7 linked regions of the Homo sapiens genome follow. The protein of the gene in region 4 interacts with the protein of the main gene of each other region in a biochemical or structural test. Each region holds a gene or a part of one and is shown on either strand. Other genes may lie near its edges.

Evidence for each region.
Region 1: the proteins of CLDN10 (region 4) and FRMPD1 interact in a test that uses a peptide from one of them, tested with the Homo sapiens proteins (one large-scale study listed by IntAct).
Region 2: the proteins of CLDN10 (region 4) and PARD3B interact in a test that uses a peptide from one of them, tested with the Homo sapiens proteins (one large-scale study listed by IntAct).
Region 3: the proteins of CLDN10 (region 4) and PDLIM1 interact in a test that uses a peptide from one of them, tested with the Homo sapiens proteins (one large-scale study listed by IntAct).
Region 5: the proteins of CLDN10 (region 4) and GRIP2 interact in a test that uses a peptide from one of them, tested with the Homo sapiens proteins (one large-scale study listed by IntAct).
Region 6: the proteins of CLDN10 (region 4) and TJP1 interact in a test that uses a peptide from one of them, tested with the Homo sapiens proteins (one large-scale study listed by IntAct).
Region 7: the proteins of CLDN10 (region 4) and DLG4 interact in a test that uses a peptide from one of them, tested with the Homo sapiens proteins (one large-scale study listed by IntAct).

Annotation. Positions count from the first base shown.
Region 1 is NC_000009.12:37,702,954-37,706,453, reverse strand, and holds part of FRMPD1 (FERM and PDZ domain-containing protein 1), read right to left. Parts: intron 1-3,500. UniProt on the Homo sapiens protein: Stabilizes membrane-bound GPSM1, and thereby promotes its interaction with GNAI1.
Region 2 is NC_000002.12:205,115,475-205,118,974, reverse strand, and holds part of PARD3B (partitioning defective 3 homolog B), read right to left. Parts: intron 55-3,500; coding exon 1-54. UniProt on the Homo sapiens protein: Putative adapter protein involved in asymmetrical cell division and cell polarization processes. May play a role in the formation of epithelial tight junctions.
Region 3 is NC_000010.11:95,270,504-95,274,003, forward strand, and holds part of PDLIM1 (PDZ and LIM domain protein 1), read right to left. Parts: intron 1,282-3,500; coding exon 1,130-1,281; intron 1-1,129. UniProt on the Homo sapiens protein: Cytoskeletal protein that may act as an adapter that brings other proteins (like kinases) to the cytoskeleton. Involved in assembly, disassembly and directioning of stress fibers in fibroblasts.
Region 4 is NC_000013.11:95,555,720-95,559,219, reverse strand, and holds part of CLDN10 (claudin-10), read right to left. Parts: exon of another isoform or gene 3,296-3,500; intron 1,722-3,295; exon of another isoform or gene 1,642-1,721; coding exon of another isoform or gene 1,596-1,641; intron 1-1,595. UniProt on the Homo sapiens protein: Forms paracellular channels: polymerizes in tight junction strands with cation- and anion-selective channels through the strands, conveying epithelial permeability in a process known as paracellular tight junction permeability.
Region 5 is NC_000003.12:14,491,975-14,495,342, forward strand, and holds part of GRIP2 (glutamate receptor-interacting protein 2), read right to left. Parts: intron 3,016-3,368; coding exon 2,869-3,015; intron 1,853-2,868; coding exon 1,691-1,852; 3' UTR 1-1,690.
Region 6 is NC_000015.10:29,707,469-29,710,968, forward strand, and holds part of TJP1 (tight junction protein 1), read right to left. Parts: coding exon 3,363-3,500; intron 1,569-3,362; coding exon 1,091-1,568; intron 1-1,090. UniProt on the Homo sapiens protein: TJP1, TJP2, and TJP3 are closely related scaffolding proteins that link tight junction (TJ) transmembrane proteins such as claudins, junctional adhesion molecules, and occludin to the actin cytoskeleton.
Region 7 is NC_000017.11:7,207,628-7,211,127, forward strand, and holds part of DLG4 (disks large homolog 4), read right to left. Parts: intron 613-3,500; coding exon 547-612; intron 1-546. UniProt on the Homo sapiens protein: Postsynaptic scaffolding protein that plays a critical role in synaptogenesis and synaptic plasticity by providing a platform for the postsynaptic clustering of crucial synaptic proteins.

The sequences.
Region 1 (3,500 bases), on a different chromosome or scaffold from region 4:
GCTGTCTTGGGACTCTGCGGTTAAGGTCTATCATTTATTCTCATCCATTTACCAAACACTTTCAGGAACCCTGCCTAATGCAATAGGCCCTCACTTATCTGAAAATCATCTCCCTCTCATTTATAATGATCTCCAGTTTCAACAAGGATCCGGAAATATGAAAAACTGTCTCACAGAGCCAAAATGTAAGTGACAAGCACAAGTCCAAAGTCTCGTGTACACTATCCACCAAGGATCCCCCCCAGGCCCTGACTTAGAGCAAATTTAGGATCTGTATGAATAGATGACCCAGCCCACACAACCTAGAAGCAGAGGGAGTCTTTCTTCTAGGCCAGCATGCAGGTAATACTGAGCTGGAGCAGCAGAGAGACCTAATGAGAGGGAAGAAACAGAAAACTGAAAATTCACACTAAATAAAGCCCATAGCTCTTCCTGATTTTTTTTCAATCTTTTATTTATTTATTTATTTATTTATTTATTTATTTATTTATTTTGAGGGAGGGTTTTACTCTGTCACTCAGGCTAGAGTGCAGTGGCATGATCTCAGCTCACTGGTTCAAGCGGTTCTCATGCCTCAGCCTCTTGAGTAGCTGGGACTACAGGCTCGTGCTACCACACCCGGTTAATTTTTTGTATTTTTAGTAGGGATGGGGTTTCTCCATGTTGTCCAGGCTGGTCTCAATCTTCTGAGCTCAAGTGATCTGCCTCTCAGCCACCCAAAGTGCTGGGATTACAGGCAGGAGCCACCGCACCCAGCCTATTCCTGATTTTGTAAAAAACATTTAGAGCTATAAAAAGGTTTTTCTAAATGCAATAAATAACACTCTATACTAAAAGTCAAAAATCAACATTTGACATTACAGGTGCAGTGCCTCATGCCTGTAATCCCAGCACTTAGGGAAGCTGAGGCTAGCTAATCACTTGAGTCCCAGAGCTCAAGACCAGCCTGGGCAACATGGCAATACCCTGTCTCTATTAAAAATACAAAAAAATAGCAGGACTTGGTGGTGTACACCTGTGGTACCAGCTACTCAAGAGGCTGAGGTTGCAGTGAGCTGAGATCATGCCACTGCTCTCCAGCCTGGGTGACAGAGCGAGACTATCTCAAAAACAAACAAACAAACAATTTGGTGTTTTATTTAATGTAGTAGGATAAATGCTAATAATAGTTATCAGGGAAGGAAAAATGACAAGAGGAATAATGAGCACAGGAATGGAAAAGTACCACCTTATTATTTTTTTTTTGTTTTTTAGCAGATGACATTCACACAGAAAATGATGAACAAAGAAAATTTTTAGTGCCAGAAGATAAGTTTAGTGGAGATGCAGGATAAAAACACAAAACACAGCCACAAAAAGGATCAAACAATTCATTAAAAGCAGATTAGCTGAATGTACATTCGGTGTTAGGCATTCTTAATGAGTGAATGCTAAATATCTAGAAAATGCCAAGAAAGGATTCAAGTAACAAAACTAGTGATGTGTACTAATGTAATTCAGGGGAAGAAGGATTTATTTAAAGAAAATAATATAACTTTCCTTAAAGCAATAAAGGAAAACACAATAATTGGGTTAAAGTTATGCTGGGTTCCTGGATGGAAACACTAAGTATCAAAAAAAAAAAAAGTTCTAAATTAAATAGAGATTTAATGTAATATAAATAAAAAATTCTTCCAGATTAAAAAACAACTTGACAAATTGATGGTAATCACAGCAATAACGACAATAATAATTAATAACATTTATGAATACTAACTATATTTTAGGGAGTGATTTAACATTATATATATATATATATCTCACTCAACCCTCAAACTTTTGAGGTGGGTACAATTATTATTCCTGTTTTATAGGTGAAAAGACTAAATCTTGCTCTGAGAGATTTTAACTTGCTTAAAGTCATACAGCTGGGAAGCAGGTTTCAAATTGGGGCTACTTTCTTCAATAGGCACACTAGCACTGCTTCTAGAGCAGTGCGGTCCAAATGAAATATACACACCGCATACGTAAATTTAAGTTTTCTAATAGCTACATAAAAACAGGAAAAAAATAAGTGAAATAAATTTTAATAACATATATTTTATTTAACTCAATATATCCAAAATAGTATCATTTCAACTCGTAGTTAATACAAAAAATTATTGATGAGAGATTTTGCATTCTTTCATATTAAGTCTTCAAAATCCAGGGTCTATTTTACACTTACAGCGCGTATCAATTTGAACTCTAAATTTCTATCAGAAATACTTAGATTTCAGAAAAGTTACAGTTGAAAAGTAAGCACTCCTTTCAGACAAAGGCAATAATCAAAACTGCATAGTGTGGCTTTCACCAATGAAACTGAATAGAAATTCTAGAAAGTCCTTTAAGTGTCTGGAAGTTTCTTAAAAGACTAAACATGGTGTACAACATGATCCAGCAATTGCACTCCTGGGTATGTACCGGAGAGAAATGAAAATAAATGTCTACACAAAAACTTGCACATGAATATTTATAGCAGCATTTTCTGTAAATGTCCAAAAGTGGAAACAACTCGAATGTCCATCAACTAATGACATGGATAAATAAAATACCGTATTCCAGAACAGAATATTTGGCAATAAAAAGGAATGAAACATGGATGAATCTGGCTAAGTGAAAGCCAGTCACAAATGACCACATATTGTATGATTCCATTAACATGAAATATCTAGAACAGACTAATCTATAGAGACAGAAAGTAGATTAGGGGTTGTCCAAGGCTTCAGGGAGGGAGGTTTGGGAGGTTTGGGAGTCACTGCTAATAGGTATAGGTTTCCTTTGTGGGGGATGAAAACCTTCCAAAATGGACTTGTGACAGTTGCAGATCTGTGAATACACTAAGAACCATTGAATTGTACACTTCAAATGGGGGAATTGTATGGTATGTAAATTATCTATCAATAAAGCAGCTGAAAATAAGTAAATTTAAAAAAATCCTGAAGTGGGGAAAGCTTATAATACAAATATATGAAGAATGGGCATAAATACACATAGTAGATACCCACATTTCACATGCTCAAAGCAAGTGAATTGACAACTCTCACATGAAGAAAGCAAGCTGGAAATTAACACAGAAAATGTACAACCTTATCAAAGAAGCACAACTGAAAGGGCTATGGAGTACTATTATGTGTCATACCAAATATGAATAAAAATAATAAGGCCCAACAGGTACTAGTCCTGAGATTAAAGAATGACAATACAAACTGGCAATTCAATCTCTCTAGGAAATCATTGGTGAACCTGTACCATGAATTTAAATTTTAAATTTGATCTTCTGTTACCATTTTGACCGGTATTCCTTGAACTGATGACCACAAAGGAAAAAATATCATATTATTTATCCTGGACCATGAGTTCCTAGAAGACAAGGGTGGTACCCATTCATCTCCATGTCTCCCATGCCTAGTAAAGTTCTAGAACAGAGTATGAGTTCAATAAACCCTGGCTCTTAAGTATTCAAAAATATCAATCTCAGC
Region 2 (3,500 bases), on a different chromosome or scaffold from region 4:
TCCCGCTTGGACCTGCTGTTGTCTTCAATGCCTCGGATGAAGAGTCCTAGAATCCTAAATGCAAAATTTAGATTGAAATATAATTACTGAATAATAAATGCTAATTATTTCTCCACTTGCAACTATTCAGAAATACATATTGATTTCTATTTACAAAAGAAATTTTACTTTATATTCAGGCAACTGTTTGTTATTTTAATCCCTAATCCAAAAAAAGCCAAAACTGACTACAAGAGAAAAAGCCCTTCTAGATAAATATGCATAAGTACCAACATCAATCTGCGACTTCATTTCTCATGCTTGCAGTAAACTTATTGAAAGGCTAGTTTACTGGAGTTGACACCAAAGACTTGTGGTTTGGAGAAGGGCATCACACCTGACTATAGTAAGTCTGAGTTAGTGCCAACGTGGCAACGTGATGTTTAGCAGTGGGAGAGCATTAGGATATTCACAGTAACATTTTTGCAGTCTTACTACCTATTCTAAAAATTTGCATTTTAAGAAGTAAAGAAACATTTAAGCTCAGATCATATTACTCAGTTTAGAAGGAAGCTGGATCCCATTTGTTGGTGCTACCAAATCAAGTATGTGTTGGGTGTTTCCTGTGTGATCAGGATGGAGGAGTATGAGACAAAGTCATAGGACCAGGACCAGGTAATTTCACTATACATTTGGGGGACAGCTGAAGTCCAAAAACTAAAGACATTAACAAGCCTAGAGCCTTCAAAGATTTGAGAGCTAACTAGATGGGAGACCAGTGCCACACACAAAGGCTTTGAACAAACAGCCAATGAACTTAATCTGATGGACCTGGAGGGGGGCATCTAGCAGACCCCGCTTCCGAGTAGGGCAGCGACATGATGAAGGCAGGCTTTGGGAAGAGTTGTCCAAAATTTCAACCAAGAAGAGGCTAAATTAGAGAGGATACAAAGAGGCCTCTGGATTTTTGTGGCTGTAGCTTAGAATCAGGAGGGTTGGAAGAGAAGGAAAGAAGAAAGAAAACTATAGCCACTAGAATTAAAATATGTGTGTGTGTATGTGTGTGTGTGTGTGTGTGTACACACATACATACACAATTCTGTTACATATATAAACCAAAACTAAACCAAAAACCGTAAGAAATGGAACTTATACATATTTTCATTATTTCTTATTTGTGGGATTTCCCTTCTCCTCGTGATGTGACAAGGCTTAGCTGTGTCCAGAGTAAGAAAGATAGATATGTCCTGCAAGAGGAGTCTGCTACATTTGGAGAAACTGTGATCTGCACTTTATCAATACTCTTGCTTTTCGACTTTGTCACTCTCTTTTGTATAAAATCCATGTGTGCTATTACAAAATACCTTCACATTAAATTTCAAACCTAAATAAAACATGAGTACATTTTATGTGTAAATAACAGGGTCAGCCATAGAAAAGGGGAATCTACAATGCAAGTATTAGAGAAAGTAGTCCTCCTGTTTGGAGTGGCCACGGAGTTGAACCTCTGTCCCCTTAATGAGCTCCCATCATCTCAAGACCTCAACAGGCATGGCAGTGATATTTGGGTCTCACTTCAAAATGTTAAATGAATACAGCACGCTGCTGCAGGAGAAAGAACAGCAAACAGCCATGCCATCTACTGCAGGGAAGGCTCAGGGTCATAGGCACAAGTGTGCAGTGGGGTCTTGTGGTTCATTTCCTAGTTCCAGTAGGTTAGCAAATTAGTCATATTCTGTGTTACTTTAATCTTGAAACACAGTATTAAAAATGAAACTATTTGACACATTAAAATAATAGATAAAACTTATGGGTTTTTTCCCTAAATTAAACAGCATCCTAAGAGTTCACATTTTGGATTTTTGTTAGGGTGGATTCACAATAACTTGATTCATTAGGAGGCTCACATGTGGTTATAAACGTGTTTATGTAAGTGATATTTTTTTAACAAGCATTCAAGTCTTCCTTTAATTTAATTCAGTACATCATCAGTCATGTAATGTTACTCCCTAGGATTTAATTTCACATTTTGGGAGATGAATTAATTCTTTCGGGCCACTGGGTTGCAATTTAGCTGGCATATTACAGCTGGAGTATGCTATGTGAACCTCACTGATCTAAATAATCTAACTTTCCATGAAAAATTTATTGACAGAATAAGCCCAACTGTAAAACCCATGTGTCAGAGGTAATTTTGGTAAAATGTAAAACTGACTGATTTTATTAGTTTGGTCCCTGGCAACAAACCACTTCTGCCCTCTCTGCTCCGTGGAAGGGATAGATTCCCTCCAGTTTGATTTCATCCAGACCAATACAAGAAGGCTCAGAAAACAATACCTCATTATCCTCTTTGCCCTGAACTGGTGGGCTGTGGTAGCTGTCTCATTTGGGACCAAGACTCGCAGAATTTAAAGATTAATGCTGTCGAGGAGTTATAGGCCGAGACTAACCAGTTAATTTGCATTAATGAACAGTGATAAAGGATGCTGAAATCCACAGCCTCACAGAATTAGAGGGGTAACAATTCTTCTTGCTCTTCTAATTATCATTTAGGCACCAACATCTTCTCCTTGCCCCCTTCCTGTTCTTTTCCCAATGTCACACAGCCTCAGTGACTCTACCAGCTTAGAATTTTGGTTTGAACATCTCTTCTCACAGTCTTTATCAGCCTTCATCCAGTCCTTCTCCTTCTCTCTCCTGTTTAGCTGTCTTCCCTATGAAACTGAGGCATATTATGCATCTGTACTGAAACGAATTAGATTTCATGTTTTTAATTCACAAAAACCACATTGATTTTAAAAATCTGAATAAAATTAAGTTGCATTTTAGTTGCAAGAACTTTGGTGTTTTTTTTATGTTTGCTTTGTTTTTACTGGGAAAGCCAATGGCCCTCAATACAAGCAGCATTCAGCACCCCTCTGCGATGGTATCTAATGAATTCATTGAGGCTTTATCTAGCAGAGCAGCCACTATAATTTACTTATTAGGATGATCTAACTTAGATTAGGTTTCTTATTCAACAACAGGTGTGGCAACATTTTTCTAAAAGAAAAAAAAATAAAAAAATACATTGGAGGCAAAGCCAATTACAGTAATCTTAGTAAAAAAATTAAATGTAAATTCTAATTTAAAATAATGGCACAAACCAATAAATGGAAGGAAATTAAGAGCAAAGTATACCACTATGACCTTAACGAAGCCCCTGTGCTCACACAGTGAAACCATATGGCATTATGAAGTCAGACACTTGTCTGACATGCTCTATACACAGTTGCATCTAGACACATGGGTTGAGTTAAGCGTGCTGTTTCAGCCTGTACTCATTACTCCTTAACTTTTATTGGCTCATGTCTCCACTTCCATAGCATTTTTAATGTTTTTTAATTAAATTTCCTTCCTATAATACTGGTGGATAGCAAAAAATAAATAATAGAACTATTTCACCAAGTTACTGAACAGTTAACCATGAACTTATAATAAAACTACATTTCTGAATCAGGCTTTTTGGTTTTAGCCAAAAT
Region 3 (3,500 bases), on a different chromosome or scaffold from region 4:
CTTCCGAAATCCTGCCTTTGCGGGACCCCTTCCAAGGCTAAATGAAAGAAGAATGGAAATTCTACCCTAATTACAGCTCCCAAGGTGCTACCCTCATTCATTCTTTTATCCCCAGCGCTCCTTGCTTGTCATGTACCTAAAGTTACACTCAGTACTCTGCTGCTAATGTGTTCAAGTTTTTCTCTGTTATTGCAATCTCCTGGCATGGTACCCACTGCTCAGCACAATGCAGTAGCAGCAGCATCCTAAGGACATTTTTTTTTTTGAGATGGAGTTTCGCTCTGTCGCCCAGGCTGGAGTGCAGTGACGCCATCTCAGCTCACTGCAAACTCTGCCTCCTGGGTTCAAGTGATTCTCCTGCCTCGGCCTCCCGAGTAGCTGGAACTACAGGTGCACGCTACCACACCTGGCTAATTTTTTAATTTTTAGTGGAGATAGGGTTTCACCATGTTGGCCAGGCTGGTCTCAAACTCCAGACCTCAAGTGATTTGTCTGCCTCGGCCTCCCAAAGTGCTGGGATTACAAAGAGAGCCACCGCACCTGGCCAGGACATTTTACTTACTCAAAATTTTGGTTGAGTTGGATCAAGTGAAAATGCAAGTATCTTACTGAAAGAAGCCCACATCATAAGCACCGTGAAAATCAGAGGGGGGCTGGGCACGGTGGCTCACACCTGTAATCCTAGCACTTTGGGAGGCCAAGGCAGGTGGATCACCTGAGGTCAGGAGTTCGAGGCCAGCCTGGCCAACATGGTGAAACCCCATCTCTACTAAAAATACAAAAATTTGCTGGGTGTGGTGGTGCACATCTGTAATCCCAGCTACTCAGGAGGCTAAGGCAGGAGAGTCACTTGAACCCGGGAGGCAGAGGTTGCAGTGAGCTGAGATTGCACCACTGCACTCCAGCCTGGGCAACAGAGTGAGACTCCGTCTCAAAAAAAAAAAAAAAAAAAATAGAGGGGAAATAAGCAATCTGAAGTTCAAATTCCACAGACCTTTTGGCATGCCTATAGTATATACATGGCACTGAGCTAGGAGGTCTGGGGGATTCTGAGATAGGGAAGGCAGTCCCTGCCCACAAACAGCTTCTAGTCAATCAGAAATGAACAAAACGTTTCCATAGGCTTCACCTGGCTACAGTGAGAGTCAAGTTGTCTGTGCAGCCTTTGATTCTGTTCTGAGCTTCCAAGTGTGTCATATTGCTAGTATTTTCCCCATCAATGGCTGTGATTACATCTCCAATACATAAATTAGCTAGAGCCGCCTTGCTTCCAGGAGTGACCTAGAAAAAAAGGGGAAAGCAGGCTAGTTACTATTTGTCTCCAAACCACTAAGTTACCACCAAGTTAAGTATTCACTGATATGGAGCAAAGCCCTGAAAAAGAAAAGAGGGCTGAAATCATAGCTTAAATAATAACAATCATTTATATTATCATTGACAAAGAGGGCTTTTCTAATATGATCTCATTGTATCCCTATAGCAACCTTATGAGAAAGGAGGACAAATAGCAGTCCCCATTTCCAAGACCAGGATCTGAGGCTTAGAAAGACCTATGACTTACCCAGGATCACCCAACTAGTATATTATTATATTACTGGTCCTCCAACTAGTGTATTACTGAGCCAGGAAACAAACCCCGAACAGATCTGATGTCCTTCCCACTGAACCACGTTTGCTTCCTTAAAATTAGTTAACAATTACATTTAAAAAAACACACACACACACATTTAGAGAACATTATATACTATAATACCCTATTTCTTTAAAAATCTTAATAATGTTATATATACAAAAGAAAGTGGAAACACTGCACACTAAATTGTTCACAGTTATACAGTTTTGCAATGTTTTTTACAATAATATTGAATTACTTTTTAATTTAAAAAATTGTTGACCAGGCATGGTGGCTCATGCCTGTAATCCCAGCACTTTGGGAGGCCAAGGCAGGCGGATCACCTGAGGCCACGAGTTTGAGACCAGCCTGGCCAGCATGGTGAAACCCTGTCTCTAACAAAAATACAAAAAAATTAGCCGGGTGTGATCTCAGCTATTCAGGAGGCTGAGGCAGGAGGATCACTTGAACCCAGAAGGTGGAGGTTGCAGTGAGCCAAGATCATGCCTCTGTACTCCAGCCTGGGCAACAGAGTGAGATTTCGTCTCAAAAAATAATAATAATAATAAAATAAAAATTTAAAAAAAAATTGTTAAAAGCAATCAAGGATATCCTAAAGTATGGTAGTATAGGTTTATACTGGTTTAATCTCCCAAAATGACTAGGGTCATTCCCTATAGACGGCTGGTTTTCTGCAGACTGATGCTTCTAAAACCAGTGGTTCCAAATTGACAGATCATTGATGCTTGGGGGAAGCCAATCAATTACTGCAATAGGTCCTTAAATTCACCTGCCTACAGAGCAATACATGCGGACTCAATACATATCACATCTCCTACACTGATGTACAACCATTTTTCAAGTGAATACAGATGCTATTAGAATGAACAAGATCCAAACTCATTTTGAAATAGTACTCACCTCAGAGTACTATCTCTAACCAAGGTATCTGGTTAGATTTTCTAAACTAAGGTATACTAAAAATATTACTGTCATCATCCCAGGGTAAGTTCACAACTTTTTTTTTCCACATTACAAGACCTTCCTGGATGGGAATTCCAAGTCCGCAGGATCAAGGTGGCAGTAACACCCCCAGGCTCCCAGTGCCCACAGGGCTCTGGCCACCCTTTGGAGAAGGCCCTTGACTCTCGGGATCCAGTTGAGGAAGATCTTATGAACACCTGGGTGTCTCCTTATGGCTGAACCACAGGTAACAGGTTCTTCAAGGCACCAAACCAGGACACACAAGTTGGGTCCTAAACCTCAGTATCTGATGCAGTTTTCAGCAGCTACAGTTTCCGATTAGCCCTCAGCGCAGCTAGTGTGGTGCCGCTATTATGGTGCATTCCCCATCAGCACCCTGACCCCAAAAAATGAGGACAAGTTGATCCTTGAGGTCCCTTCTGGCCCGCACATGCTATGACTTTATCAGGCAAAACTCTCCTGGAATGTGGCAGGATGTGGAAACCAGTACCGAGATCCTGACCTCCTAACCTTCCTTTCTGGCTCTCCCATCATTTGTTTACCAGAGATCTGGGTTTTAGGAAACGAAAGCAGCCTCCTGATTCAAGGTTCAGATCGTCCCCTCATCCAGCCACTGGGACAGGACTTTTTATCCAGGCAAGCACAGGCCGCTCTCATTTCAGTCAACAATGAGAGTTAGCTTCTGAGTCATCCAGTGCATGCAATAAAAAAAAATTCCTCCGTTTTCTGACCTGTTGTCCTGAGAAGACTGATCTGGTGCATCTTCATACACACTTCACTGTTACTAAAGGACAACGCAGGCTCAGTTTTTAAACGGCTCTAAGCATCATTTTATTTGGGATTGGCAAGCGTTCTTGACTGACAAACTCTAACTCCAAGGAGAGCAGCCTGAATCAAGGAGAAT
Region 4 (3,500 bases):
TTTCAGCCTGAAACAATGCCATATTTCGATCTAAAATAGTGATAGTAGCACATACCGGGTGTAAGTAAGTATCTGCTAAGCAAATAAACATATATACCTACATCAGGTTTACGTTTGGAATTAAACTTTTTAACTGGAAAAAACCTCTTATGTGTCAATATATGATAAGTCATTTATTATTGGTGTTCAAGCAGAGCCATGATAAATAATAATTCCGAGACCATGATAATCATGAATTTAGGGAGTACATACTAGTGGCCTCCAGTTCAGTTTCTTTTTTTCTTTTCTTTTTTTAACACAGGATCTCACTTTTGCCACCCAGGCTGGAGGGAAGTGGCATAATCATAGCTCACTGCAGCCTCAAATTCCTGGGTTCAAGAGATCCTCCTGCCTTAGCCTTCTGAGTAGCTGAAACCATAGGCGCTTGCCCCCACCTATGGCTAATTTTTAAATTTTTATAGAGACAGTGTCTCGCTGTAATGCCCAGATTAGTCTCGAATTCCTGGCCTCAAGCGATCCTCTTGCCTTGGCCTCCCAAAATGCTGGGCTTAAAGGCATGAGCCACTGCACCTGGCCCCAGTCTGTGTTTCTTTGGAAAAGAATGAAATTGAAGTTTTAATCCTATTCCTTGGACCCATTTTTGAAGAGCAAACAGGAGCTGCTCTACTTAATTGTAAACACTTTAGACTCCCACAAATGCAGACTGCAAGGACAGTGACCTTCCATTGTGTAGTGTGAAATATTTCCATACAGAAAACAATTTCACTAACACCGTGGCTATCAAAAACAGCAAAACAAACTTATTTTTAGCAAAACAGGATAATGAAGGCTTCTTTCATAGCAATCATTGTGCTGCAGGGCTATCTGGGTCTCCGCTGCCAAATGCTGAACCAGCTGTATTTTAAACTTCAGTCCTCGAGCTCCCCAGCCAGAGCCCAGACAGCAGGTAGAGGCAAGACAGAGAGGGGAAGCCTGTCAGTCCCTTGCAAGTTTGAAGAGAGCCTGTGAGGATAACCCAAACTGGTTCATCACTTGCCACCAGGGCTACTCGGACAGTGTGGTTTCGCTCTTTTTGTGAAATTCATTTTAATCTATGGTTTTGAGGTTTTATAGCTGACTCTGACTGCAGTCATTAAATAAACAAAAAAATGGGGGACTCATCCATTTATATATACTCCCAGAAAACATTAGCATGTACCCTAATTTGCATTGCCTTTAGTTACTTCCATGCTTTGTTAACAGAAAGTGCAAGTTGTCGGGAATTTACCAAAGGTTAAATTCTACAATCTGGTCATTTAGAACGCGGAATGCATTTCCCAGATGATAAACAGTGGGTAGAATCCCAGGCCAACCCATTCGATTCTTAATACAACAGGGAAAATAACAGTAGTCTTTGAACTTTATGTAATCACCACTGATAACATTTTTCCCGAGTTTCTCACTCTGAGATGCCCCGTCCCAGCCCTGGTATTGGCAGCAGGACCCACTTTGGTCTCTTGACACAAGCATGAGAGGAGAAGTGGGCAGGGCAGATTCTGATCTGGTCAGGTCCTTCTTTTGTGCCAACCAGAACCCGGATTTGGAAAATGAGGTACCTTTCTCCAGCATGAACAGCAGCCATAACTTGTTAATTTTGCGCATGCACAAAGAAGGCAATTTACAAGGACGATCATTGGCCAGATTTTCTGAAATGGAGAGCAAAGAGCAGGGGATAAACTCCCCTGCCAGCCATAAATGTAATGGAGTTGCTCGTAAGCCTGAGATTTGTAAATTCTCAGTGTTCTAAGGCTACCAGTCCTTACAACACCCACAGATTGGAGCCAAGATGATTCCAACAAACCCTTTCAGAGTTCATCTTTTGCAAAGCAGACCTCTACAGCCTTGCTTTCTAACAGTTCCTGAGGGCAAAACTTACAAGTAACACCACCAGGAGAAGTGTTAGTAAAAACCTAGTCAAGGAGGCCATTATTTTTGACAGGTCTAATTTACTGACACTGTTAATAGCTAATTAACACATTAAGGTGCTGAGGCATGAACATATTTATTTAGAAGTTCTCTGAAGTATAATTTATAGTTAGTTCTCCTGGGAGAAATGGCAAGCATTCCCACTAGCAAAAATAGATGGCATACACTAAAAACAAGCTGGCTGAAAATCATACTCAGCTGAAGTTCAAGTGGTACTTTGAAAGGAGTATGGGTTAACAATAAACAGAAATCACAAGCTCATTCAGCTGTGAAATTTTCAAATAGTAAAATACAGTGACTTTAAATTAATGAACTCTGTTGGAGGAAAGCTTCAAGGTGTTCCTTAAAAGTTAAGTGTTTTCCAAATTATGTGTACTTTATTTTCAATTGCAAATCAGCAAAAAACGAAAACATCCACTTGGTGGAGACAATTCGCTAATAGCACCTGTGCTAGTTGATGGATTTAGGGGGGAAAAAAGAATGTGCTTTTCTTTTCCTGGTAGCTTTGTGTACTTCTGCAAATCCTTTGAGAGAACAGTGGTATGGGGAGGGCAGGAACTCTGAGTTTCACCTCTGGTGCTTCTATTTACCCAAGGTATGTACTTGGTTATAGGACCTAATCTCTTTGAGGCTCAGTTCTCTCATCTGTAAAACAGGGATGGCAGCACCTCCTTCACAGGATGAATAATATGGATGTCTGCTGAGCAGTAAGAAAGTCATCAAAGCATCCCGTCATATTATAATACTACAATGGATTCTAAGCAGAAATTAGAGCTGGGTTCTTAATATGGCATAACGTTAAATCTAGACATATAGCTTTGCTAGGCCTCATTTTTCTTATAAGGAAAACAAGTGGCAATGATACCCCTAGGGGAGGGGAATCAGAGATTTCTTTATATAAGAAATTTAGGGCTGGGCGCATGGCTCATGCCTGTAATCCCAGCACTTTGAGAGGCAGAGGCGGGCAGATCACTTGAGGTCAGGAGTTCAAGACCAGCCTGGCCAACATGGTGAAACCCTGTCTCTACTAAAAATACAAAAATCAGCCAGGTGTGGCAGTGGGTGCCTGTAATCCCAGCTACTCAGGAGGCTGAGGCAGGAGAATTGCTTGAACCCGGGAGGTGGAAGTTGCAGTGAGCAGAGATCATGCCATGGCACTCTGTCCTGGGGGACAGAGTGAAACTTTGTCTCAAAAAAAAAAAGAAAAGAAATTCAGAATAATGACCTCGTCGTTTGACTCCAAGAGTTCTTCTACCTAACACAAGATAGGCAAGAGTCACGAGCCTTCTCTCTCCCTTCCTGGATTCTCTTCCCAATCTAGAGCTCATACCTGGGTTTAAGGGGAGGGCTGTTCCACTCAGGCCACCATGGCCACTTTCTCCAAAGGCAATGTCAGGACCAGCACCCACCAGATGTGGCTGACCTGGGAATGCAAGGTAGAGGACAAACAGAGGGCCCCTACCCTGGAAGCTTCCACTTGCAGGTGGGGGAATCAACTCCCCTCCACAGGAAAACACAGTTGCATGATTTAACCC
Region 5 (3,368 bases), on a different chromosome or scaffold from region 4:
GGAGGGCACCAAGGGGCAGAGCCCAGCGAAGTGGAGGGGAGGGGTAAGGGAGGCAGGCCTCCAGGAGACAGCGTGGGCAGGTCCCCAAGGGGGCCTTGGTGGGTCGGCAGAGATGGTTCCGGCCCTGACCAGGAGGCCTGTGTCTGCTCAGACTGTCCACCCGTGATCGTCCAGAGGGGCTGGGGGTCCAACCCAGACAGGGTCACACAGCAAACAGGTAACAGACCCAGGGTGAAAAGAACAGACCTCTTGACTCCTCATCTGTTCCCTCAAATGGAAGAGCACTTTTCTGGCCTCCAGGGACCCCAGGTTGGAGACAGATGGAGGTGGGAGTGGGTGCCCCGTTTTCCTGAGACCCCTGTGAGAACTGGGCCAGGCAAAGCACATCCCCAGCCCTGGCTACACCTGCCCGCCCACTCCATCCCAGGCACCACTCACTAGACCACCAGGGGAGGCCCACACCCTTCTCAAAATGAAGAGGGTCTCTGATTTGTGGACACTGAGGACAATGATTTTAAGGGATGCTGGTGCTTCCAGATTTCAAGTGGGAATAGACTTCTTTGAATAAGCACTTTGGACACCCTCCACTGGGCAAGAGTGTCCCATCTTTTTCTCTGGCCCATTTCTCTCCCATCTCCCTCCCTCTTTCTCCTCTTCCTCCACTGATCTGGCTGTAAAGAGGAGCGCTACCGCCTCACAGGTCCTGCGTCCATCGCTTTTCAATTTTCACTGGATGGCAGGTGAATGGAAGCTCCAGGGTCTTTTGCCCCAAAATGACCCCTCCCACATGGAGGGGCTTGGGCTGAGCGGACGTGCAGATGGGTCAGTGGCCACACGGCCTACAGAAGAAGCAGGAGGGCTGAGAGCCCAAGGCCCATAGAGCCTGCCCAATGGGCCCAGAACCACAGTCTCAAGTCCCAGAAGCTTCAGACTGAGATGCTGAAATCAAAGAATCACCCACTTTCAGAATCAAAGGGCCAGCACTTCCTGGGATCCCAGACGCCCCAACTTAAGAGTCTCATAAGTGGGGACCAGATTCTGGGAATCTCAGAATCTCAGGACTAGCAAGCCCCAAACCCCTATTCTGGAGAAGCGAAGGAGCTGGGCTCCCATCCGAAGCAGCATCCTTCCTGGTGGCCGAGTCTCTAGATGAAGTGGCTCCCCATCAGGAAGCCAACCCCCAAGCGCGTGTGCACGCATCATGGGAATGCCTCATACCCCAATGCATGACTGCGCTGGGGTATCCAGCTCCTGCCTGCTCACCTCCTGTGACCGAGAACTCACTCCTCCTTGCAGCTCATTCCAGCTCCATGGCTTTGCTGGGAGGAAGTGCTCCCTACATCTTCGACCTCTCCAAGGAGGCCCCACAGAGACCTGGGACAGCCCCCAGGCCTCTCTCCTCTCGGCTGAGCAGCCTGTGCCAACCCTTCTTAAGGGAGGCTCCTCTGGGCATCTTGGAGACCCAACTTGGCGAGAGACCCCAGCTGTCACTCCAACTAGGGCAGGACCTCCCTGCCTGGCACCCCAGTCACCACAGACCTGGGGAACAGAGACCAAGCATCATCCCAGGCTCAGAGTCTGCCAGACCAACAGATGAATGAGTGGGTGGCCGCTTCTCCAGCCCAGCTACGTGTCTGGGAGCCAGGATCTGCCTGGGTGGCCCCTTAGGAGTTCGGCCCACATGCTGACTTCAGAGCATCCGGGGACTGCTGGGGCCTGGCGATCGGGGGGCCCGGCTGCTGTGTGCCGTGTGCGGCTTGCGGCTGATGATCAGCTCCAAGACATCACCCGCCTCGGCCAGGAGTGGCACCGCCAGGCAGCAGTCGAAGTCCCGTGTACGGACGTGGTTGACCTGCATGGGGCACAAGCAAGGGAACAGAACCGAGATGTCAGCCCTGCTGCGCTGAAGGGAGCAAGAGGCATGTGATGTCCTAAAGATGGGTCCTGCCCCAGCCTTGACGCAAGCCCTGACATCACCAGCACCACACACAGAGGAACATTCTTCCTCTAACTCTCTCTCAGTCCTTCTGTTAGGTTTCATCAAAGAGAAAGTTCTAGGAAGGGGCAGGTATACCTTTCATACCCCTCTAACTCTTGCTTTTCTCCCTTTCTCACATGAAAGAGCAGACCACACACTCAGAGAGCCTCCTGCCTAGAACTGTGTGATGTGACATTGTCTTCTTTCTATTTTATTTGCATTTTACACCCACTTTCTATTTCAAAGCAAGGGGTGCAAGATTTTCACTCCTAATGGAGACAAAAAGTTTCCTTTCAAAGTCAAATGTAAATTGAAAAAGTGCCATCAATTTAGAGAAAACATGAATTGAGTAAATTTCATATAAATATGGCAAAAAACACACTGAGGGAGCAAAAATAGCCAGGGCATGAGAAGGGGCGGCACGGAGTGCCCAGTACACGATGTCCCACGCTTCCCAGGCTCCCTCACAGTTAGTTAGGAAGGTCACATGAGGGGTTTGGTCCATCGGCTGTGAAGCAAGGTGATGAGTGTTGCTTCTGGGTGAAGGCGGAAAAAATCCACGTGTGACTTTCCAGTCTGTCTCCTCTGCTGTGGAGTCTGAGGAGGCCACGTGTCTCAGAGGGTCAATTCCAAGATGGGCGGATGCTCCATCAGCCCGGGACAAGAAGGCCCCCACCAGCCCACAATGGGCATGGGGTGTAAGAAGAAAGGTCTGTGTGTGCTCAGCCTCTGAGGCTGAGGGTGCTGGGGCCCGCAATGCAACTTTGGCTAACCTGACTCAGACTTGCATTGTCCTGCCCTCTTCACAGGCGATAGATGCAGGCTCTTTCCCCACCCTCAGGCTAGGAAACAATGCCACCCCCACTATGGAGCCCCTGCCCCAGCATTACCTGCAGGACCCTGTCGAAGGGCTGGAGGCCTCCACGGTGGGCTGGCCCATCAGGGCGCACAGTGTGGACATAGACACCTTTTTCCAGGAGGCCATCTGAGACGCTGAAACCAAAGTCATGCCGCATGGGGTCCTTGTGCAGGGTCACCTGGAAGCAGAAGGAGGAGGAGGTTCCTGGAACTCTGACCTTTGCCCCCAGCCTCTCACAGTAGCCCAGGTCCTTTGGTCTGGCATTCAGCGCCTCTGGCCAGCCACACCCCCCAGGCTGCAGCACCCCAGCCTCTTGCCCCTGGGCCTTCAGCCACCCCCGCCACCCCGCTCCCTGCCAACCTCCCTCAGCAGATGCTCCAGGCCACAACACTCAAGTACGACGGAGCCCTTAGGAGTGACTTCCTTTCAGCCCTTTCTCTGTCCTCTGGCTCTATCAGGGAGGAGGCCTGGCCAGGGCACTGTTACCTCCCCTGACCGTCACTCATTCCCATTTACCAAAGAGCTGCTCAG
Region 6 (3,500 bases), on a different chromosome or scaffold from region 4:
TGCAGAGCTAGGAAGGCAGTGACCGCCATAACCATCCTTTCTCTTGGAAAGCAGACTCAGGTGGCCATCCTGACCTTTGGTTCTCCCTGCCTGCAAGTGCTTCTGCTTTATGGTGGCGTGAAAATGGAACTGGCTGTAGGAGGCTGAGATGAGCTTTTATGTATGGCCAGAATCCATCTGGTCAATCGCCGTGGAATGAAAGACAGGAAAGAGGAGCTGCAGGGAGGCTCCAGGTGGGCTCACTTTGTCTCATTTGCTCAGCCATCTCACTAACTGCTGCTCTTTAAACAGTCAGAGGTTATTCTATTTTTCTTCTTAGCATCATTGTGGAACAAATAATGAATGAGGAACATAGATACTTAATGTTTTTAGATGTCCTCCACATGCACCTTACCAGTAGGTCAGGAGGTTACAAAAGGTCATGGCTGGTTAAGAGTATGGGCTCCTGGCTGGGTGCAGTGGCTCACGCCTGTAATCCTAACACTTTGGGAGGTGGAGGCGGATGGATCACTTGAGATCAGAAGTTCAAAACCAGTCTGGCCAACATGGTGAAAACCTCTACTAAAAATACAAAAAATTTAGCCAGGCGTGGTGGCACACACCTGTAGTCCCAGCTACTTAGGAGGCTGAGGCAGGAGAATTGCCTGAACCCAGGGGGTGGAGGTTGCAGTGAACCAAGATCGCACCACTGCACTCCAGCCTGGGCGACAGAGGGAGACTCTTGTCTCAAAAAAAAAAAAAAAAAAAAGCATGGGCTCAGAGGTCGGATGACCAGCAGCTAAATTGAGGCTCACCTCACTCTAGCTGTGACCCTGGGCAAACTGCTTACTGTCACTCAACCTCAGTTCTTAGTAAAACAGGGATGATGACAATACCTACCAACCATACACGACTGTTAGCTTTATTATTTTACCAACATCTTGTACCTCCTGGAGGACCTTCTATGTAACAGCATTCATTGCAACAACACTCTTCAGTTTAAAGGTTGAGTTAAAAAGATCACTTTAAAGTCCCAAGTCAAATAAACTACAACAAACTCACATGAGAAAAATCACAGGGCCAATGCTTTGAGCAAAGGCATAAGTCTTACCTCACAGGAATAGCTTTAGGCACTGTGCTGATATTATTTATTTGATATTTAGGCTTCTCTGCATGGATAGAGAAAGTTTCAACTCCACTGTCAAACTCAGGAGGCTGTGCCAAACTGTGCGATTTCACAAGAGTTTTTGGAGAAGTGGGAGTTTTTGAAGACAAGTCAGGTTTATGTGCAGTTTCACTTGGCAGAAGATTGTGATTGAATTTAGGACTTTCAAACTTGCGTTCAAATGGTCGGGCAGAACTTGTATATGGTTTTGGTGTGAATCGATTGTATGCTGGAGTGACTGTTTTCTGAGTCTGTTCAGTTCCATTAACTGGGGCTTTATCTGGAAAACTTTTCTGGGGATAGAAAGCTGCCTGAGCAGTATCTTCTCGGTTTGGTGGTCTGAAAGTTGCTGGCTTATTCTGAGATGGAGGTGGGTCTGGTTTGGACACTAAGGAATTCTGAAAATCCAATGACACTGAATTACCTGAAAAACAAACGTAAGCATTTAAATAACTTTCTGAAAAAAGTTATAATAGCCCTGTCCCAGCTTAACTTGTCCTGGTGCTGGAGTCGAGGCCCAAATGTGGGTCGCACAGCCAGAGCCTGACTCTTGAGCCCTGGAGGCTAGGTGTGATGCTGAGGGATGAGGGCAGCATGGACAGGTGGTGCCATGAATATATATACCCTGCTGCCCTGGAGTCAGGGTCCAGCTGCTAAGATTCCTGGCCTCCAAAGATTGGCACTAGTCTTTGTGAAAACTAGAATGCCCAATAATCATATAATAAGGATACTCACTATTAATTAGAAAAATGTAAAACAAAACCAACAAAAAGCATTAAATACTATTTCACACCCACTAGAATGGAAAAACCGAAAAGTCTGATGATGCCAAACATTGGTTAAAAAGTGGAACCACAGGATTTTTTATGCACTGCCAGCCACAGTGTAACACAGTACCAACTGAACTCTGTGAAATAATTAAGGACACTACAAGACAGGAGAATTATTAATCCAAATACCTCATGAATATAGTAATATAATTTTCCACAGTACGAGAAGAAAAATCATATGGTCATCTTAATACATGCAGGAAAAACATCTGACTGCTTTCAGCAAACTCTGAATATAGGGAATGTCTTAAACATGATAAAGGACATCTACGAAAATCCTAGAGCTAACATTCTAAAGGATAAAACATGAGGTCCTTCCTCCTTAAAATCAGGAACTAGCAAAAGAGGTCCAATTTCACCACTTACATTTCAGAGTTTATTGGAGGTCCTGGCCAGTGCAATCAGCAAGAAAAGAAAGAAGGCTAGGTGCGGTGGCTCATGCCTGTAATCCCAGCACTCTTGAGAGGCCGAGGTGGGCGGATCACCTGAGGTCAGGAGTTCGTGACCAGCCTGGCTAACATGATGAAACCCTGTCTCTACAAAAAATACAAAAATTAGCCGGGCGTGGTGGTGTGCGCCTATAGTCCCAGCTACTCAGGAGGCTGAGGCAGGAGAATCACCTGAACCCGAGAGGCAGAGGTTGCAGTGAGCTGAGACTGCGCCACTGCACTGTAGCCTGGGCGAGAGCAAGGCTTCGTCTCAAAAAGAGGAAAAAAAAAAAGAGAAAAGGCATAAGGACTGGAAAGTAAGAATTAAAACTGTCTTTATCTGTAAACATGGGCATGTGTGAAAAAAAATCTTAATAAAAGATAGCCTCAATCCAGAACTATAACACATCTGCTTGAAGACTCACAAGCCCAAGGAGGTGCCTCCTAAGGGAATAATAAGAGAAGTCTGTGCTAGGAAAATGCCTGTCCACAGCAGAAGAGATAACCACTTTGTGTTATATGCTGAGGGTAAAATGTTACAAAGCTCTTAAGATGAATAATCTGGAGCTATATGTGATCTACCTGGTATGTAAATGCAAAAGTCAAGGTGTATGGGATACATTTTATATGAAACATTATGGCTTTTCTATTTGGGTGTGTGAGATAAAACATAGTAGGTTTTACAAACCATCTTTACATATACTGGCAAACACTACTTCCAGAAGATTTAGAGACTAGCATAAAATAGATTAAAATCTGTTTAGCTAAAAGGCTTGTCCAAAATAATGGTCTTGTAAAAACAGGAGACATACTTTTAACAAAATTCTTAGTTTTTACTGTTCCCAGCCCAAAGGTTTCAAGCATGTATTTTTTAATGTAAAAACCATTTTGCCTAGAAACCACCAGAATTTTACTTCATAAGCATTACTGTGTTAAAATGTCTACTTCCGAACTTCCTACCTTCACCATGTGCTCCCTTAGAATGTATGTGGAGAGACGCGCTGGTGACAGGCTGAGATGGCTGGGCATACTGCGAGGGCAATGGAGGAGGAGGGGGAGTGGCCTGGATGGGTTCATAGCGTTTCTCGCCAAATGATC
Region 7 (3,500 bases), on a different chromosome or scaffold from region 4:
TGAAGGAATGAAGAGGTCCCAGGCGTGGGGGCCTCTTGGGGGATGCACACACCTCAACACACACGCATACAGCACACGCACAGGCACACAAACGGCGCACGCACGCACACACACACACAGCACACACACAGGCACGCATGCATGCACACACGCACAGGCACACACACAGCACACGCGCACAGGCACGCGCGCACACACACATTCTTGCTTTAGGCTTTACATCCACTCCCATTGGCCTGGCCTGTTTCTCCTCTGTGGGACCAAGGTGTTTCCAGCCCCACAAACGCCCCCTCCCCCAGACCCCAGGAGCCCAAGCCCCAAACCCCCGCCCCCAGTCCCAGCATCCCCCTCCCCACGGCTCTCTCTCACCCTACCGGCCCTTAGGGATTGCTGCAGCTCCGAGGCTCCGAGGGCCGCACTGGGGAGGGGGCCACCAGGGTCTCCTACCTTGAAGGGGGAGAGGTGGGCGTGGCCCACGACCCCGTGGCCAGCCTCGAGGTGGGACAAGTTCCTCTCCGCCACGTGCACCAGCTCGGGGGCGTTTACCTGGTTGGGGAGGTGGGCCGGGCTGTGCTCCAGAGGGGGCGTGTCTTCATCTTGGTAGCGGTATTTCTGGGGATGGGGACGGAGGTGTCACTGGGGCCAGCCCGGTGCCTCAGGCTCCAGGCTGGCCGCCCTGGCCGCCGCCTCTTCCCCCAGCCAGTGCAGTGCGGAAGGCCCTGGGGCCTGACCAGCTCCTCCCCCTCCCTCTCCTCTAGCCCATTGGCTCCCCTCTCTCCACTCTCCCAACAGCCCCCTCTCCCGCCAGGGCCTCAGCACCTCTCATCAATCCCCAGGTCCCAATCCCATCCCCCAACTCCTACTCCTCACATCCTGGGACACTGGCCTTCTGGTGGGCATAGCCCCTCTGGCATCTGTGTCTTCACCCCTTTCCCCACCACCTTCATCTTCGAGTCCCTCCAGCTTCTCAGAGCTCTAGCCCCGACACTCACATCTCCATTCTCTGCCTCCAGTCCCCAACTTCCTTGCTTCTCTCACCATCTCAGACTCACTCTTGTTCTAGCCTCCCCTCCCCTACCCCTCTGGCTGCTCCTACTCTGCATGGCATCCTCCCCGCGCCCCACCTCCATGGCCTCAGTCTCCCCATTGCAGCCTCTACCCCACAGGTGATTGGCTCTCCTTTACCTTGCACTCCTTAGGCAAGGACTGAAGTCACCCCTTCCACCAGAAGGTACTTGGTATCAGCCCCCGAGACAGGACAAGGCTAAGCCTGTCCAGTTCACTGCCCTTGCTGGTTTCCAAGCAGTCAACAGAGGGGCCCCGGGAGTCTGGCCCTACCCCTGCAACAGCCCACAGCCCAGCCAGCTAATCCGGTTATGCTATAAGGGCATGGGCTGGGGGAGGAAGGGGAAGAACAGAGACAGCAGGGCTCAGGACAGGGGCAAGAATGGGTGCCAGCCTCCCTGGTTGGGGAGGAGGGTAGCATGCTGAGCCTCAGAGTGAATTTCTGGTCTCCCTCTGCTCTTTTGGGGTGAAAGGCCCAACATGACCCCTGACTCCCTGCCCAGTTAATCAGCTGCCATCCCAAGGGCCTCCTGTGCTAGCTTAATAGGGACAACAGTAAAATGAGATTAACTGGGGGCCAGAGAAGGAGGAAAAGGGCAGATGGAGACAGCAGAAGAAGACAGCGTTTCTGCCTGGGTCCTTCCGTGTCCGCCTCTGCCCTCGCCTGCTCCTCTCCTCTGGAACGGGCCTCCACAGAGACTGACCCTCCAAGCTCCAGGTTCAGGAAGGGGAAGGTATCATACGCAGGGATCCCTCAGGAACTGAAGAAGACAGAATGCACCGCCCAGTACACATGGGTAAAAAGAGAAGGCACGGCAATCCCAGCACTTTGGGAGGCTGAGGCAGGCAGACAGCTTGAGCCCAGGAGCTGGAGTTGGAGACCAGCCTGGGCAACACAGTGAAACCCTGTCTACAAAAAATACAAAAATTAGCCAGGCATGGTGGTGCACACCTGTAGTCCCAACTGCTAAGGAGGCTGAGGTGGGAGGATTGCTTGAGCCCAAGAGGTGGAGGCTGCAGTGAGCCATGATCACGCCACCGCACTCCAGCCTGGGCAACAGAGTAAGACCCTGTCTCAAAAAGAGAGAGAGGCCAGGAGCAGTGGCTGATGCTTATAATGCCGAGGTGGGTACATCACCTGAGGTCAGAGACCAGCCTGGCCAACATGGTGAAATCCCATCTCTACTAAAAATACAAAAATTAGCTGGGCGTGGTGGCACATGGCTGTAATCCTAGCTACATGGGAGGCTGAGGCAGGAGAATTGCTTGAACCTGGGAAGCGGAGGTTGCAGTGAGCCGAGATCATGCCACTGCACTCTAGCCTGGCGACAGAGTGAGACTCCATCTCCAAAACAAAAAAGAGAGAGGGCGAGCAGAATTTCCCTCCCAAAAGTTTCTGAGAGGCTGAGAGTGCCCTAATACTTAGAGGGCAGCAGCTGCGAGATCAAATGGGAGGAAGCTTATCAAGGTCAATGGCCAATCCTTGAGTAGGATTCTGAAAATGTTAAAGATGATGAATCAAGGCTGAGAATATAACACAACTTTGGCTGTAGAGTAAGGGTACAGTAAGAGAATGGGAGAAGGGAAGTGGTCCTGTCAGCACGAAAACTCTCAAACCCAGAACACAGAGACAACTCAAATCAAGAAGCACCCTGATACATTTAAAGAGTCTTAAAGAAGGAAAACGGGCTCAGCAAGATTGAGTCTATTCTCTGGGCCACAGACTTGGAGAGAATCCTGAACTCCAGATTTCAATCCGATGGGCACAAAAAGTAGAGAAGGAAAATAGGAGAACACACAAAATAGCCCTCCTCCAAGGCTGAGCTGTCTTGAATAAAGGAGTTCTATGAACCAACAGAGACTGTTCATTCCACATCCTGAGAAGGTGGTCTTCTACCTGGGCAGTGCACAAGCTGAGGGGCAAGCCCCAGAATTGAGACCTGGGGGAAGGGGTGGAAGCCGCTCTCCGCTATCCACTCTTCCTTCACAAGGCCTCCAATTCCCTGCAAGGTAAATTAGGACCAAAGCTCCAAGTTTTGGAGTCTGGGGGAGGGTTTGAGTCCAGTGCCTCTCCATCTTCACTCCACCTCAGAGAGAAAATTCCTGAATCTGAGGAGGAAATGTCAGCGTGCACCCAAAGAAAATGGAAACATGAGGAGGGCCATTTCATCATTTATTCTAGGGAGGAAATGAAGGTAAACTTTTATCTCAGCGAGCCCCCAATACCTCTCCCTGCCCCACCCCCATGGAGGGAGGGTGGTGTCTGGCACTGAAGAAAAGGCTCCTCAGGATTGGGAGGCAACATGGAGAAAATGGGGAACAAGAAATGGGTGCCAGGGTTTCCAGAATGTGGCTGGAAGAGGTTAGGGACTAGGTTCAGTCTCTGGAAATTTTCGACGTACATGTAGGGGGGCGGGGAGAAACGTCGGGAGGGG